Linked DNA regions of Homo sapiens: regions 1 and 2 are each reported to be linked to region 3. Evidence: microRNA targets listed by miRTarBase, many of them from high-throughput screens and not tested one by one. Region 3 holds a microRNA gene; each other region holds the end of a gene's coding sequence.
Evidence for each region. Region 3 holds the annotated microRNA hsa-miR-571 (UGAGUUGGCCAUCUGAGUGAG, at 1,931-1,951, shown strand). A microRNA usually pairs through its seed, bases 2 to 8, with sites in the 3' UTR of a target mRNA and lowers its output. Matches are read on the target gene's strand: a 7mer-m8 pairs with bases 2 to 8, a 7mer-A1 pairs with bases 2 to 7 and ends in A, and an 8mer does both.

Region 1 (3,358 bases), not on the chromosome of region 3:
CAGTCTTGATTAGGACTGAATTGGCAGTTTTGCTAATTAATTTAACGTCAAGTTTTTGGTGGCAGGTTTTACTTAGATAGTTCCCACACTGGTTAAAATAAATTTTGACTTCATTTGCTGGGAACAGCAAAAGAAAAATCCAAGTGTTTCTTTTAATATTGGATTATTGGTGACAAGCTTTTTTCTTTGGCTGCTGTATTCAAATACACTGCTTTTGTAATCAGTAGAAGTACATAAAACCCTTAAGTGAACTCAACCATCTCTGATCTGCAGGAGTTGAGGCCCTCACTGGCTAGAGGACCCTGTACTTGGAATTCATTGGAATTCCAAATAGCTACTTCCAGGTTGAGAAACTGGATCATACATGTGTTGGTACAAGGAGGAAATGGGCTTGAAGTTTTGTTTTCATAAAAAAATTGGTCAGTTTAAATGATGGTTATTTGGGATTGTTATTGGAATACGGGCATTTTGAGATTCTAGACCTTATTTTTATTTATTTTTTTAACCTTTCTAGATCCCAAAAGGATAATCACTTACAATGAAGCCATGGATAGTCCAGATCAATGAAGGACCAGACTGCCTATTCGTAACCTTTCTGCAGCATTAGAGCCATCGTTCATGGGGGACACAAGGCTTTTATGCTCCTAGATCTTCAACGCAGCAGAGGAACCATAAGTAGAATCACAGGATAATATATACAAATATATATATATACATATATATATATATAGTTATTTAAAAAAGGCAACTGAAAGTAATTAGACTTCTTAAGGAATCAAATTTATTTCAAGAGACTACACATGGTTATTTAATCTCCGGTACTGAATAGGTTTTTTTTCTTCTGTTAGTTTTTGTTTTTAAGTGTGAATGCAAGTGATTAATGAATACAGACTTAACAAGTGTGGTTCTAAAGTTCCTGCTGTCATCAACTTGGGCAACAAATGACCCACTGGAAAGGCAAATCCACTTAAAAGATCTCTGTATCTTGTTCTGTGACTGAAGTGATACACTAATCACGGGGAACCCAGAATGATTCAACATTTTCCCCCCACTCCTCCCTTGATCTTTTTGGTTTTACTTTAATTAAGCCCTGCGAGAATGCTGGATAAATGCCTTGAAGTTAGCAGGGTGTATTTTTTTAGCGAATATGATTTGCATGTCTTGCCAGGAGTTAAGCGGCCTCTGGGGTGTTGGGGAAATACTTTATTTCTTTCCATTTATTTTTTGTGGGGCGGGGATAGGGGAGGGCATTGAAGTTCTACAATTCTGGAATAGTTAGTTGATGGTACATAGTTAACTTGGCTTCGGTTACATATTGGACTTTAACAACTGAAGAATCTATGCGTGTCATTTAAAGAAAAGTTGCAGAACAAGCAATTGGCTTAGATATACAATCTGGAAAAATATTCCTGTGCCCATATTTTAATGTAATTGTATAACTGGGAGCAAAAATATATTCTGCTTTTCAACTGTAGGTGCTCCAGACTTGCTCTCCGTCACTAACACTAAATGTGCTGTTTTCCTTGTTTTTCATCAAACATTTAAGACAAACTTAGACCTTTCTGTAAATTATCTTTTAATTTCTCAGCAAAATCTAAAAGGGGAAGAAAAAAGTCCATGAAAACTAAAACTTTTCATGTTTTTAGCCAGTGAGAAGATAATAAACCCTGACTGTAGAAGGTGTGTTTTCATGCAAACTATACTTCTGAGCTTGTTAGCTTCTAATTATATCTTAATAAATATATTTTATTACTAGAGCAAGATGGGTTTTTAAGGAAAATAATGTGAAATTCTGGAAATTTTCTTTGGGGCAGAGAAGAGCATTAGCCCTGTCTTATCATTACATTGCCATCCTGTTGCACTGCAGCTTGTGTATAGCATGCTAAAATAAATTTTTGTGTGTGTGTGCAGAAATTAAGGGTCCAATTGAGATTGGGTGATGTTAGTAACATAATAACAAGTTGTCTGGCCTGACACAGCATCACATCACACACACAGAAATTAGTATATCCATGTATGTCAAATACAGGTTAAAATATCAGGGCATTTATATAAAGAGTTGTAGTCTTCTGATAAAAGTAGACTGGATCCCCTGGGGTATTTGGGGAGAAAGTAACTACTTTGGCTCTACCCCTAGAAATGTCCAGTTTTGAGTGACTGTAGTATGGATGGGTTTTCTTGTTTTGTTGATTATTTGAGGCTTTTAAAACAAGTAGTTCATGAAAGAAGCTGTTGGACTCAACATAGAGTAGAGTAACTATCTTTTTAGTCTGGATTTCTGCCCTGCTTAGATTTTAAAAGTATAAGCATGGATTGCCAATTCCACTTGATGTAAACAAAACTTTTTTTTATACATAATATATATATATATATATAAAATAACTTATTGTATCAGTCCAGGTTCAGAAACTTGTGGTAGGCCAGTTCCAGATAGTTTCATTTCACCTGTAAACTGTATCACTTTGACTGATATTGTAATTTTCAAATGTATAATATGTTTACAGATGTGCCCTGCATTTAGTCTGCCTTGTTCCTATTTTGATTTTTGTTGAGTCTCCTGCCTGCTTGCCAAAAGCTAGGATGCTTCAGGCCCATGTACAATTGAAAGCAGAGGCATCCTTGAGCTTTAAAGCATTGAACAAACTGGAAAATGCAACATACCACATAACTGAAGTGAAAAAAGTCTGTGTTTTTGTGTTTTTTTAAATAAAAATTTTCAAAAAGTTAAAAAAAAAGACATATAAGGTTGATTAAAGGGAAAAAAGGCTCCAGTTTGTTTTACAGGTTTTAAAGTTCTGCTGTGTGTTCAATTGCCTTGTGTAACCACTTGTCGCCTTAGGGCCAGATTCCCCTCTCTAGTCCCCTTTTTTAAATGTCCATTTTGCTTGCCTGGAATTTTAAAGTTCTTCCGTCTCACAACTCACAAGAAACTTTCTGGGTTTGTGACATACAGAGGTTGAATTGAGTATATATTTGAAAAGGAAAAAACAAAAAACAAACCCAGACCCCACCTGAATTGGGCTTTTTAACTTAGAAGCAACACTTGATTAAACATCTTTAGAAAGCTATTGCTTTTCTAATTTCCTTCCATATCCCTCAGGCCTCAGTGTTCAGAGAAGCCAAAAAGAATGTATCACTTCTCTGTCTGTCCAAAGGTTTTTGAGAGTCTCACTTCTAAATGAAACAATGCAACATTTCACTTTGATTTCTCCACTGAAATTTCCTTGATTATATGGTTAGAGGTATGTAGTTAGGAATGTCTGTTAACTTTCTGAGAACCCTAGTGCCCCATCATATTAACTGTCAGTATTTTGGGGGCATTAGGTTAATAGACTTAATTGCCTAGGTACAAGCAGGA
Region 2 (3,000 bases), not on the chromosome of region 3:
GAAGTACAAGGTTGGTCATTTCCTCAATGTTATGGAAATATATTTAAAGTCAATGGATCAAAAAAATTATTAACTACAGTTATAAAGGAGAACAAATGAACTAAAAACATAACAAAAATGGTGAGAAGGAATGAAGTGAGATAAACTGTTTATCATTCATAGAATAACAAATTTGGCTTAAATGATAAGAAACAGCAGCAAGAAACGTGCTGTTAACCTCTAAGAGGTGAAATTGGTGTGGATGGCAGACAGAAACACTTGTACTTTTATTTTCTATCCATCTGAATTGTTTAGAATTTTTATTCAGGTACATGCTCTAAAATTAAAATTGTTTTTAATCCTAAAAAACATTAGGGGCTGGGCATAGTGGCTCACGCCTGTAATCCTTGCACTTTGGGAGGCTGAGGCGGGTGGATCGCTTGAGCCCAGGAATTTGAGACCAGCCTGGGCAATATACTGAGATCTTGTCTCTATTAAAAAAAAAAAAGAAAAGAAAAAGAAAAATTAAAGCTGGCAGCCTCAGAAAGGAGCAACAGTTGACACTACAGAAAGATCCTAGGAAATTATAAAAAGCAGGTATAAAAACTCGCAAAAAATATTTGAAGTAAAATGCCATTTAAAGTAAAGACATCTAAACTTATCCAACACTTCTGGTACAGCAGAGTCAATAAAAGCAGTTTATAGCTATAACTCGGTGATGAGACAACAAAAAAATGATAGAATTCTCTAAGAGGGCAGAGATCAACTTTAAAACTATTCTCATCCAAAATAATATAGTAATATAGTAATACAAGCATGGCCCTTAAAAGTATTTCAGATTCTGGAAAATTCTGGACAAATAAATGTTATTTACATATATTGATGGATAATACATGATGGTCCAAAATTTTAACACCTTTGCTTAAAAAGAATATTAAAATAAGTGATCCTTAAAACCATTATAATAGCATAACACGAAGATTATAATATTTTAATAAAATTTTTACATTTCTAGAGCAATTTATTCAATTCATACATGATATAGCAACAAAAGGAAGGAAACTGAGACAGCTTTCCTATAAAACATTCAAGAGTACTTTCCTTTGACTGTTTACTCAATATATATGTTCTCTTGGTATTCTTCTGAATTGTTAACACAAAGTTTTAAAAAATGAAAATTTCATATAAAAATATTTATCTTTTTTAACAATGGGTTTTCAAATTAAATAATGTCTGTTTATCAATATTTATTGCATAGAAATATTTTAAGTACTTTAATATTTAGAAAAACATCAGGAAGCCAGTTTTTCAATGGCTGCCATGTCTTAAAAGTTGGTAACTTAAAGTCTATTTATAATTTTAAAATTACATATTCTGTAGATATAAAAGTTAAAAAAATACATTTTGATTTAATACAAAAGCCTTCTAAATTTACATTTTCAAACATTACTGTGATTCTATAACATTGTATATATACTTAGCCAAAATAAGTTAATTTTTAAAAATCAGTAACATGTAATATGCTGGCAAGACTATTTAGAAACAAATGGGGGTAATTATAAAGTCAATGTTATAAATGTACTACTACAAATAAATAATTAAAACAAAGCAGAATATAAAAATGCATAGAACAGGAGCAGATTTATTAAATCTAAGTCACCAGTGCAGAAATCTGGGTACTTAATCCCTTAAGGAGTTAGAGGATTTCAAATTTAAAAGATGACTTTTCCCAGGGGACATTGTGACTTTCTGTGAATAAAGGAAAGAAAGTCTATTATTTCTATTCAGATGCTTCTAGAGTATTATTGTTCAAGTGTTTTTATGTAATTCCTCCTTTAATTTAAATGTTCTTTCCCTGAAAAAAATACTTTAAGATAATAATTTTGGCCTCATGACATATATACTTTAAAAATACATGTGATTCTACAATAACCCCTCCCCCATCCTGATATCTATACATATATGCATTTATAAATATATACAGTTTCAGGATTATAAAAATATTTAATTTTTATAAGCTTAAATAATTACTGTTAATACAGAAAACATTAATACTTGTATAATTTCACTTTTATTTATAAAAAGATTTTCTTATAGCAGCATTTGCATTACAAATAAAATTTGACCAAAGGATGTTGCAGTGTACCAGGACCAGTACTGCAAATCAGACTGAGCAGCTGTGATGTTCCTCTAAAAGAACATCTAGAGGCCAGGCGCAGTGGCTCACGCCTGTAATCCCAGCACTTTGGGAGGCCAAGGTGGGCGGATCATCTGAGATCAGGAGTTCGAGACCAGCCTGGCCAACATGGTGAAACCCCATCTTTACTAAAAATACAATAATTAGCTGGGCATGGTGGTGGGCCCCGTCATCACAGCTACTCGGGAGGCTGTGGCAGGAGAATCACTTGAACCAGGGAGGTGGAGGTTGCAGTGACCTGAGATCGCACCAGTGCACTCCAGCCTGGGCGACAGAGTGAGACTCTGTCTCAAAAAACAACAAAAAAAAGGACATCTGTCTCAGCTACAGAAGAGTGGTTCCCATAAAGCAGAAAAACCTTGAGGGGCTAATAACTTATGTGAACCTTCTTAAGTGCATTTGAAAGTTATCTCCATAGAGTTGGCAAGATTTAGTAAAATATCCCAAGAAGTCCAAGTTTTATTGATCCCCAGAAAAGTTTTCTAGTGAGATAAGTAAAAATTGTATTAATGAATAGTGTTTTTAATTGAATCAGATAAACTTATTAAAAATTAATTAAAGATTTCAAGAGTAAAAAAATGAAAACATCGCTGTGGGTGGTATAAGAAAATAAAACAAAAACAGATTTGAAACTTTAAGACATTACAAAAAAAAACCCTCAATCTCAAAAACTCATATTAAGCTTGTTTTTGTTGAGCTCACGTTCCAGATTTCCAATCAAAGTATCAATACTTTCTTGTAGATCTTTGAGATTGTTTTTTCGATCCACTGTAGACTCAACTGTCTGCATTGTCAAATATGTCTGAAATGTACACTCTTTGGAC
Region 3 (3,358 bases):
GTGCTGTTGATGTCATTTCAAAAAAAGTTATTGCCGAGACCAATATCAACAAGGTTTTTCCATATGTTTTCTTCATGAGTTTTAAGATTTCATGTCTTAATTTCAGTCTTTGTTTTGAAGTCTGAAATTAGAAAGCATGATGCCTGCCAGACAAGGTGGCTCACACCTGTAATCCCAGCACCTTGGGAGGCCGAGGTGGGCGGATCACTTGAGATCAGGAGTTCAAGACTAGCCTGGCCAATATGGTGAAACCCTGTCTCTACTAAAAATATACAAAAACTAGCTAGGGGTGGTAGTGGGCGCTTGTAATCCCAGCTACTCGGGAAGCTGAGGCAGGAGAATCACTTGAACCCAAGAGGCAGAGGTTTCAGTGAGCCTAGATCACTGAACCTAGATTGTGCCACTGCACTCCAGCCTGGGTGACAGAGCTGGACTCCATCTCAAAAAAAAAAAAAAAACAAGTATGATGCCCCCAGCTTTGTTCTTTCTCAAGATTGATTGCTCAGGTTATTAAAAGTCGTTTAAGGTTACACCTAAATTTTACAATTGTGTTTTCTATTAGTGTGAAAAATGCCAATAAAATTTTGATAGGGATCACATTGAATCTATAGATCACTTTGGATAATATTCTTTGACAATATTAGTTATCCTAATGGAATATGTTTCCATTTATTTGTTTCTACTTCACTTTCTGTCATTGATATCTTATTGTATTTAGTGTATAATACTATATGTTTTTTATGTCATTTGGTTAAATTTATTTTGATTAACTTTCTTATTTTTATACTATTGCAAATGGAAATGGTTTCTATTTTTGGAAAGTTTGTTTTTACTCTATGGAAATGCAAGAAATATTTGTATGTGGTGCCAGGTGCAGTGGCTCATTTCTGTGATCCCAGCACTTTCAGAGCCCAAGGCAGTTGTATCATGTGAGTACAGGAGTTTGAGATAAGCCTGGGCAATAGAGTGAGGCCCTGTCTCAAAAAAAAAAAAATCCCAACAAGCATCTATATGTTGATTATGTATCCTGATACTTTAATGAATGCATTTATTAGTTCAATCAATTTTTCTTATTTTACTCTAGGGTTTTATGTATATGCATGATGATATTATCCACAAACAGTAACTTTTTTATTTCTTTTCCACTCTGGAGAGCTTTATTCTCCTTTTCCTTGTCTAATTGTTTTGATACAAACTTCCAGTCACATGTTAAGATAGAAGCTGTGGCCCTGGAGGCAGGCCTGCAAGTCTTGTCCCCGGCTGTGGTCTCTGAAGCAGCCCTGTGTCTGCATTTGACAAATTTCACAGTTTGTATAAACTATTTTTGGCAGGTAAAGATCTCCTTTTGTTGAGTCCCAGGCTGATGAGATTACCTCTGGGGTTGCAGAGAAGAAGGGTTGTAGCTGGGTCACAAGGGTGCTGCTGGGTCTGCTGTGGGGTCTGCCTTTGATGATTGTATTACCAGAGATTTGGACAGTCATGGATTATTTCTGGGCCCTGGAGAGATTAGATTTCCTTGAGGATATTAATCTATATGGCAGGCAGTAGACTAGGGTTTTGAAGTTTGTCTGCATATGATGGGCCAAATACCAGGTGTATGAATGGGTTTGGCTTCTACTGACAACCTGGGAACAGTTTCCACACTTTTCTCTTTGGGTCCCTGATTGTGTACAACTGGCCATGGACTGTGACTGTGAGGGCTAGAACTGAGTCACAGGGCTCAGGAGCACAGCTGAGGCCAGGATATACAGGCCTGCCTCCAGGGCCATGGCTGGGTGTGTATCTCCCTGCAGGTCTCTTGATGGGAAGGACCACGTCTGGACTGTAGCTGAGATTGAATTTGAGAGAGGTTACAGAACTGCTTCAGAATCCTCAGTAAGACCAAGCTCAGTGTGCCATTTCCTTGTCTGTAGCCATGTCTATGGGCTCTTGAGTTGGCCATCTGAGTGAGGGCCTGCTTATTCTAAATAACCCTCGATCTCTGGCTCCACTGAGGTTTCACAACCCTAACCATAGGCAAGCACCTTTCTACTTCTGCTTTCTATGTGCTTACTACTTAAAATATTGTATAAAAATGGAATCATGCATTGTCACTTTGTTAGCGTCTTATTTCACTAAAATAATGGCCTCAGGATTTATCCTTATTGTAGCATCTGACAAGACATTTTCATTTGAAGCTAAAGAATATTTCATTGCGTGTATAAGCCACATCTTTTAAAATCTTTCATTCATTGAAGGATGTTTGAATTTTTTCACTTTTTCACTTTTGTAAATTATACGGTTTGGATCTATGTCCCCATTCAAATCTCATGTCAAATGTAATCCCTATTGTTGGAGGTGGGGCCTTGAGGGAGATGATTGGATCGTAGGGTTGGCTTTTCATGAATAGTTTAGTACCAGCCCCTTTGGTACTGTCTTTGCCATAGTGAGTGAGTTCTCCCGAGATCTTATTTTTTATTTATTTATTTTTTGAGATGGAGTCTCGCTCTGTGGCTCAGGCTGGAGTGCAGTGGCATGATCTCGGCTCACCGCAAGCTCCACCTCACGGGTTCATGCCATTCTCCTGCCTCAACCTCCAGAGTAGCTGGGATTACAGGTGCTTGCCACCATGCCCGGCTAATTTTTTGTACTTTTTTTTTTTTTTAGTAGAGACGGGGTTTCACCATGTTAGCCAGGATGGTTTGGATCTCCTGACCTCATGATCCGTCCACCTCAGCCTCCCAAAGTGCTGGGATTACAGGCGTGAGCCACCGCGCCCGGCCTGAGATCTTATTTTTTAAAAGCATGTGGCACCTCCCCTCTCACTCTTGTCTTGCTCCTGTTCCCACTGTGTGAGATGACTCACTCTCCCTTTGCTTTGTGCCGTGACTGGAAGCTTTCTGAGGCCTCCCCAAAAGTAGAAGCTGCTGTGCTTCCTGTACAGCCTTCAGAACTATGAGCCAGTTAAACCTTTTTTTTTTTTTTTGAGACAGAGTCTCGCTCTGCCACTCAGGCTGGAGTACAGTGGCGCGATCTCGGCTCACTGCAATGTCCGCCTCCCAGGTTCAACTTATTCTCCTGCCTCAGCCTCCCGAGTAGCTGGGACTACAGGTGCCTGCCACCAAGCCTGGCTAATTTTTTTAATTTTTAGTAGGGGCGGGGTTTTACCATGTTAGCCAGGTGGTCTCCTGACCTCATGATCCGCCCCTCGGCCTCCAAAAGTGCTGAGATTACAGGCGTGAGCAACCATGCCTGGCCGGAGAAACATTTATACTTCCATATACTTGTTGAAGTATAAAATGTAAGTGCCTTACAATTTTCTTTCCTCCTAAAACATAAGCACTGAGTTTGAGGCATTTTCCTGGATTTTTCAACCACT

Region 1: the mRNA of NUFIP2 is a reported target of hsa-miR-571. Seed matches in the 3' UTR shown: 7mer-A1 at 2,917-2,923.
Region 2: miRTarBase lists SYDE2 as a target of hsa-miR-571. Seed matches in the 3' UTR shown: 7mer-m8 at 2,594-2,600.

What each region holds. Positions count from the first base shown.
Region 1 is chr17:29,261,748-29,265,105 of GRCh38, reverse strand. It overlaps NUFIP2 (nuclear FMR1 interacting protein 2), which reads left to right. Exons shown (of 4, transcript NM_020772.3): 4 at 515-3,358. The coding sequence ends at 567. Among named protein-coding and RNA genes, the nearest start is that of CRYBA1, 17 kb to the right of the region's middle.
Region 2 is chr1:85,155,910-85,158,909 of GRCh38, forward strand. SYDE2 (synapse defective Rho GTPase homolog 2) reads right to left here. Exons shown (of 7, transcript NM_032184.2): 7 at 980-3,000. The coding sequence ends at 2,841. Among named protein-coding and RNA genes, the nearest start is that of MIR4423, 24 kb to the left of the region's middle.
Region 3 is chr4:348,287-351,644 of GRCh38, forward strand. It overlaps MIR571 (microRNA 571), which reads left to right and starts at 1,871; the gene lies at 1,871-1,966. The region is part of intron 3 of ZNF141 (zinc finger protein 141); the gene reads left to right.